Homo sapiens: one gene and its partner. The protein of the gene in region 1 purifies or fractionates together with the protein of each later gene. This does not show direct contact. Each region holds a gene or a part of one and is shown on either strand. Other genes may lie near its edges. The genes, in order: FAM98B and RNPEP.

What was found.
Region 2: the proteins of FAM98B (region 1) and RNPEP fractionate together in Homo sapiens (co-fractionation; one large-scale study listed by BioGRID). This does not show direct contact.

The regions. Positions count from the first base shown.
Region 1 is NC_000015.10:38,485,073-38,488,478, forward strand, and holds the end of FAM98B (protein FAM98B), read left to right. Parts: 3' UTR 1-2,638; downstream 2,639-3,406. UniProt on the Homo sapiens protein: Positively stimulates PRMT1-induced protein arginine dimethylated arginine methylation.
Region 2 is NC_000001.11:201,996,095-201,999,916, forward strand, and holds part of RNPEP (aminopeptidase B), read left to right. Parts: intron 1-52; coding exon 53-169; exon of another isoform or gene 170-315; intron 316-1,224; coding exon 1,225-1,460; intron 1,461-3,807; coding exon 3,808-3,822. UniProt on the Homo sapiens protein: Exopeptidase which selectively removes arginine and/or lysine residues from the N-terminus of several peptide substrates including Arg(0)-Leu-enkephalin, Arg(0)-Met-enkephalin and Arg(-1)-Lys(0)-somatostatin-14.

The DNA of each region.
Region 1 (3,406 bases):
GCCTCACCTGTATTGCTGTGGATGTGTTTTGTGGGTTTTTCATTCGATTTTACAAAATAGGGAAAGGCACTTCCAGTTGTATTTAGTAGGCAGTTGTTGTGAATCATTTTTTTCTCTTATAGGAGGAGATTCCTCTCTAGCCATGTTTCTGTTAAAGTTTCATTAATTGAAGCCCAAGTTTACTTTTTACTGTACATACTTATTTTCTAATTGGATTTGAAATCAGCATGATTTTGTTTGACAAAGCAAAGTTTAAGATTGAGGTCAGAAATACTTTAATGGAGCAAAGACACATACCAACTTTACATGACGGTGTGAGAAATAGTCCTATAAACTGGTCTCTTCATCATTTATGCTCTCACTTTAGATATCCAAATATTAAAAGGCAGGCTGACCTGTATCACACAGAATTAAGGCAGTAATTTTCTGCTTCAGTAGATCAAGGGTAGGGCTAAGGCATCCTGTGGTAATTCTGATTCACAGCTAGATTTGGGAAACACAAAGTTAGGGAATGGCTATATGTGATTTGCTAGTTGGAGCAGTCAAAGTCTTAGCTATCAAGAGTTGTGAATTTGAATCATGGCACTAGGTCAGGGGTGCTATGGATTGAAATGACCTTAGTTCTCAAGGAGTGATTTGTCCTCATTTGTCAAATGAGGAATGAGACACTTACCATCATCTCAGGTTGTTTCTTAAAGACCTAAATACAAATACAATTTGTTAAAAACTTACAGAGGGCCTATTTTGAATGCTTTAAGATGTAGGCCAAGTAATGTATTTTTCTCTTAGTGTAGAAAGTTAAGAGAAAAAGAGCTGGTACCATAAATTTTTTCAATCTTAGTGTAAAATCTGTATCTCATTGTAGGCTTCTGGTCAATACCTATACATAACAACTTAATGTGATCTAACCAACTCAACTGATAGAAAGCTGAATTGTTCCCAGTGGACAAGTGGTATTTGATGTTTAGCAGGTTTTTTTGTTGTTATTTTTTTGGTAAACTCTGTGGTAAAATCTAAAATAATGTTAAAACCCTAAAAGTAACTATTGAATATTCTGTAATCTTAGACATGTATTTTTCAAGCTAACCCTTTGAAGAAATGTGTTCAAGGTAGGAAAATATAAAATTTTTTGGTTATTTGTAAATTTATTTTTTGTGTGTTTATATTTAATGAAAAGATGTAATTTCATTTGTGATAGCTGAAAAAAAGGCTTTCCATAATTAAGAAAATACCTTTATCAGTAGCTATGAACTCTGAAAAATAATTTTTAAAAACTTTTAAGAAAAAAACTACTTGAGTAAAATATTTCAAGAGTTGTTTAAAAATCTTCTTTAAAACCTTTACATTTCTGCCTCACTTCTTTTTTGGTAGCATTAGTTGCTGATGAAGGAGATTTACAACTACTTTCAACTTTTTTACCACTAAAGGTTTATGGTAAATATGGCAGAAACAATAGTTTATCAGTTTCATTAGATTTTCCATAAGATTTCTTTGTACCTTTATAGGAGTGCTGCTTGGGTTATTCACTACAATCACTTATTTCCTATCAAAGTTTAGCACTTGCTCCTGGAATCGTGTTGGAGCTGAAACCACTCCTATGTACACATTCCTATAAACCTTAATTGAATGAAAAGCTGAATCAGGTAGACTCTTAATATTTTACTCTTTCCTGTAAGGTGGGATTTTCCTGATAATCTTTGTTCAGTAAAAATTTCTTTTGTAGAACAGTTTGCTGAGCAGTATCTGGAATAGCAGGAAGGAAATTTGGGGCCTTAATGGGAAAGGCCATAGTGTGAAAATGTTTTATAAATTGAGTGCAATACGACATGGAGTATGATGAATGGCACTCCACTGCTTCCTAAAATCCAACACTTTTTTTGATACCTCCTTTTCATTCTTTTTTGCCTGGTTCTCAATTTCATTTTTTAATTACCTCATTGTCCTTCCCCTTTTTTCTTCTCTTTTTGTCCAGCCTGGTACCTAATAGCAAATATAGACATGATCTTACTGGGAGTTTCTGCCTAAAGTAGTCATCTTTCCTCTCGACCGTATAAAGAGCATGTATTCTGTCTATAACATAATCACCACACTATTACTCATAAGCACACATCAAAAGGGAAACAAGGGTTTTCTTTGAACTTACTTTTGTTTTGCAGATCAGGGAAACCTTGCCTCATTAAACAGAAAAAGGAAAACATTTTAAATAAAAAACATCTTATTACCTGTATCTGTGACAAGAGGAGGCATGACAACCTAAAAAAAATTTGTGACCAGAAAAATGTCCTGAGCAGTGATACTATCTATACCTTGGAAGGAGCACAGGTTAGAGAAATGTGGGGATGAAAATTGGGGAAGGTGAGCAGGCAGTTTAATCTTGCCTTCAGGATCAGGCTGTCAGTGTGACTTTATTACTTTGTATGAAGTATTATGAATTGCCCAAATGATAAATACACCCCCATCTAAATGTTCCAGAATGCATTCCACAGAGGAATTTGAGTGACTGAAATTTTTCCTCTTTCTTCATTGGTGTGGTTAAACAAAAATTAGCTGGGGATTAAGGGAAAATTGTGGCTATGTCTGATCATTCTAAATAATCATGACCACAAATAAATTGCCCTGAGTAGGTCTGTAACCTGGATTGAGCTGTCGTTACCAATTTTATCCATAGCTTCAAAGGATTTCTTCTTTACATGCTAGTTTGCTTAGATGAAACTGTGGAATTAAAAGCCACAGAGAAGGGACAACCTCAAGTCTGTCTCCTTTAATGTTAAGTATTTATAGACTTAATATTTGGGGACCACTGTAAGTTATGAATAAGATGGAAAGAGATTGAATATTTCTGTAGTGTTACTTCTTCGTGTTGTAAAAAGATGTAGAAAATTTTAAACTGAATAGCTGCTTTGCCTTTCCTTCCAGGAAAACTCAATTTGATTAATAGAATAGGGCAGTGGTCTTAGCTGTGGAATATAGGAAAAATTCAGGTAAAGTGTTTACGGGGTCACGAAGCAGAAGAAACACAAGACATTTGTGTTGTAGGGATCCTAATGTCTTTTATCATATAAATATTACACAAAGAAAACTTACATTAGGTATCAAAAAACTTTACAATCTGTACATTTGTTTTTTTCTTGCATTTCTATATTATACATTTTGAGACAGAAATTCACAACGGTCAGTAAAAAGGTAAGTCAGCAAAGAAAATGAGAAGTGACCCTGCTGTTAATACAACAAGATTTGTCCTTGTTTTGGCAGATAAATACCTGGCCAAACTAAAGTCGTGTGAGATGCAGAAATTTACACTAGGCTTGATAAGCCAAAGCCTTTTTTTTTTTTTTCCAGATTTCTGTGATCCCACTAGCCCCATGTTGCTCAACACAAATACTATTAACTTGTATACTATACCTCT
Region 2 (3,822 bases), on another chromosome or scaffold:
ACTGCGATGGTCTCTAAACACCATTCTGCTTTCTCTGCTCTCTTGTCTTTAGGAGCCGGGTGTGGGCTGAGCCCTGCCTGATTGATGCTGCCAAGGAGGAGTACAACGGGGTGATAGAAGAATTTTTGGCAACAGGAGAGAAGCTTTTTGGACCTTATGTTTGGGGAAGGTGTGGTATCACATTGACTCTAGTGTCTCCTGTTAAACTGAGTCACTGGCTTCCATTCTTCCTCTTCGTGTGGCTTTTCCACCTCCTGCCTCCCAGAGCAAAGTTTCCCTGATCCCAGAAGTGAAGGAGAGGAGGAAGAGAGGAGGGTATGAGCCAGGCTTCTCACTGTTGCTGAGGAGAGGGCCTAGGAGATGAGGTTCTTTGTGTGTGTGTGTGTGTGTGTGTGTGTGTGTGTGTGTGTGTGTTTTGAGATGGAGTCTCGCTCTGTCACCCAGGCTGGAGGGCAGTGGCGTGATCTCAGCTCACTGCAACCTCCACCTCCCAGGTTCAAGCGATTCTCCTGCCTCAGCCTCCAGAGTAGCTGGGATTACAGACGCCCTCCACCACACTCAGCTAATTTTTGTATTTTTAGTAGAGACAGGGTTTCACCATGTTGGCCAGGCTGGTCTCGAACTCCTGACCTCAGGTGATCTGTCCACCTTGGTCCCAAAGTGCTGGGATTACAGGTGTGAGCCACCAGGCCCGGCAGAGAAGAGGTTCTTGAGGTGTTCAAAATGTGACCTGCAGTTGCCAAGTTTGAGATGGGGCAGCACCGTCAAGGTCCTTTGTTGACCTGTGTTTTCCCATTGCTGGAAGTTTCCCCACACTCTGTTTTTAACTTTGACATCTTCAGACTTTAGGCTCCTTAGATAAAAGGCTCCAGGTTGGTCTTTATGACCCCAAGTTGGCCTCCAGGGAACTCCATGTGATGGAGCTGATAATACATTTATCACCTCCACCCCTGCTTGGAAGGAGAGAGGGAAACAAATGCCTGGAGAGTGAGCTCCAGGAGAGCAGACACCACCTCGATGAGGGAAGTCCCAGCAAGGCAGGGGAGCCACGTGGGAGAAGCATTGAGGAGCCTGGGCTTTATTTTCCGCACTGGGCCCGAAGTCGTACTCTGCCTGTTTAGTGACTGCATCTGTTAGGGCTTGGAAATAGGCTGGAAAGGGAGGCGAGGTAGGGTCTGCTCCGGGAAGCCAGGGCCTCTTGGTGACCTCCCCGCTTCTCGGCAGGTATGACTTGCTCTTCATGCCACCGTCCTTTCCATTTGGAGGAATGGAGAACCCTTGTCTGACCTTTGTCACCCCCTGCCTGCTAGCTGGGGACCGCTCCTTGGCAGATGTCATCATCCATGAGATCTCCCACAGTTGGTTTGGGAACCTGGTCACCAACGCCAACTGGGGTGAATTCTGGCTCAATGAAGGTTTCACCATGTACGCCCAGAGGAGGATCTCCACCATCCTCTTTGGTAAAGTGCCCACCCCTCTCCTAAGGAGTCTGCCTCCCATTCTTAACCTGTGGGGCCAGTGTGATCTCCTTATGGGGTTTCAGAATACAAGTGGGTGTGAAGAGACGAGGCAGTAGTGTGTATCCAACATTTTTCTGTATGTATGAATTGTCAAACCACACATGGTTTGACAACTGACTTTTTTTTAAAAAAACATTTCCCCAGGTCATTAGTTTTTTTTTTTTTTGAGACAGAGTTTTGCTCTTGTTGCCCAGGCTGGAGTGCAATGGCACGATCTCGGCTCACTGCAACCTCCACCTCCCGGCTTCAAGCGATTCTCCTGCCTCAGCCTCCCGAGTAGCTGGGATTACAGGCATGCGCCACCACACCTGGCTAATTTTGTATTTTTAGAAGAGACGAGGTTTCTCCATGTTGGTCAGGCTGGTCTCGAACTCATGACCTCAGGTGATCCAACCTCCTCGGCCTCTCAAAGTGCCAGGATTACAGGCGTGAGCCACCATGCCCAGCCCATTAGATTTTCTTCTATAGCTGCATATATGGATGTTTTTTAATTTACTGGTTGTTTCCAATTTTCCATTGAAATATGTTGACAAATTTCCTTACACATAAATGTCTATTCATATCAGATGATTTCAACAATGATAAATTCTTAGAAACATAATTTCTGGGTCTGAACTTTTTTTTTTTTTTTTTTTTTGAGACAGAGTCTTGTTCTGTTGCCAGGCTGGAGTGCAGCGTTGCAATCTCGGCTCATTGCAACCTCCACCTCCGTAGTTCAAGCAATTCTCCTGCCTCAGCTCCCCCACATCCCACTCCCTGTAGCTGGGATTACAGGCATGCACCACCATGCCCAGCTAGTTTTTATGTTTTTAGTAGAGACAGGATTTCGGCATATTGGCCAGACTGGTCTTGAACTCCTGGCCTCAAGTGACCTGCCTGTCTAAGCCTCCCAAAGTGCTGAGACAACAGCTGTGAGCCACTGCGCCCGGCCCTGAACGTTTTAAATTACATAGTCTTTTTAGTACATATTGTCCATTATCTTCCAGAAAGTTTGTACAAATTCTGTACTTTCATTCAGAATATATATAGCAAGAGCCTGTTTGTGAATATCTTAATCAGCCATTAGGAATCCTGCAAGCAAATATTTTTATCCCATTGTACAGTTGAAGAAACTGAGGCTGAGAGAGGCTAAGCCACTTACTCAGAGTCAAAACATCTAGGAAAGGGCAGAGCTGGCTGGTTCCAAAACCCTGTGCCCCACCCCTCCACTGTTCCCTCAGTCATTGTTTTTAATGCAGAAGGAGACTTAGAGATCCTTAAAAATTTGGGGTTGATAATTTCTTTTGTCTGACAGAAACAGTTAGATGAAAATAATTCTAAGTTTTCACAGAAGATCAAGTCATTGCCAGGCATGGTGGCTCACGCCTGAGGCAGGTGGATCACCTGAGGTCAGGAGTTTGAGACCAGCCTGACCAAAATGGTGAAACCCCCGTCTCTACTAAAAATACAAAAATTAGCCAGGCATCATGGTGTGTGCCTGTAGTCCCAGCTACTTGGTAAGCTGAGATAGGAGAATTGCTTGAATCCAGGAGGTGGAGGATGCAGTGAGCCGAGATCGTGCCACTGCACTCCAGCCTGGGCAACAGAGCGAGACTCTGTCTCAAAAAAAAAAAAAAAATCAAATCATTTTCTAAAAATAAGGCCGGGGGCTGGGCGTGGTGGTTCACGCTTGTAATCCCAGCACTTTGGGAGGCCAAGGCGGGCATATCACCTGAGATCAGGAGTTTGAGCTTGGCCAACGTGGTAAAGCCCCCTCTCTACTAAAAATACAAAAATTAGCTGGGCGTGGTGGTGCACACCTGTAATCCCGGCTACTCAGGAGGCTGATGCAGAAGAATCGCTTGAACCCAGGAGGAGACGGAGGTTGCAGTGAGCCAAGATCACGCCATTGCACTCCAGCCTGGGTGACAGAGTGAGGCTTTGTCTCAAAAAATAAAATAATAAAATAAATGAAATAAGATAAAATAAAAATACAGTACTTTGATAAGGAAAGGTAACTGTCAGAAAGGTGCGATTCCCCCAGTCCTCACTTAGGAGAGAGACCAACAGCCTGAGTTAACCAAGTCCTTTGTAGCCCACAGCAACAGGGAGCTAGGGACTGAGTCAGGCTCTCTGTAACTGTCCCTATTTGCCCTGGGTCCCCAGGAGGGTAATGTTATTAAGCTTCAGGTATCTGTCGCTGTTCTTCTTGAGGCCACAAGGAGGCAGCACAGTGTCTCTGTCAGGAAAATACACTTGGATGTGGTGACAGACGTTTTCCCGAGGCTTACGTTTGATTCTGCACCAGGCGCTGCGTACACCT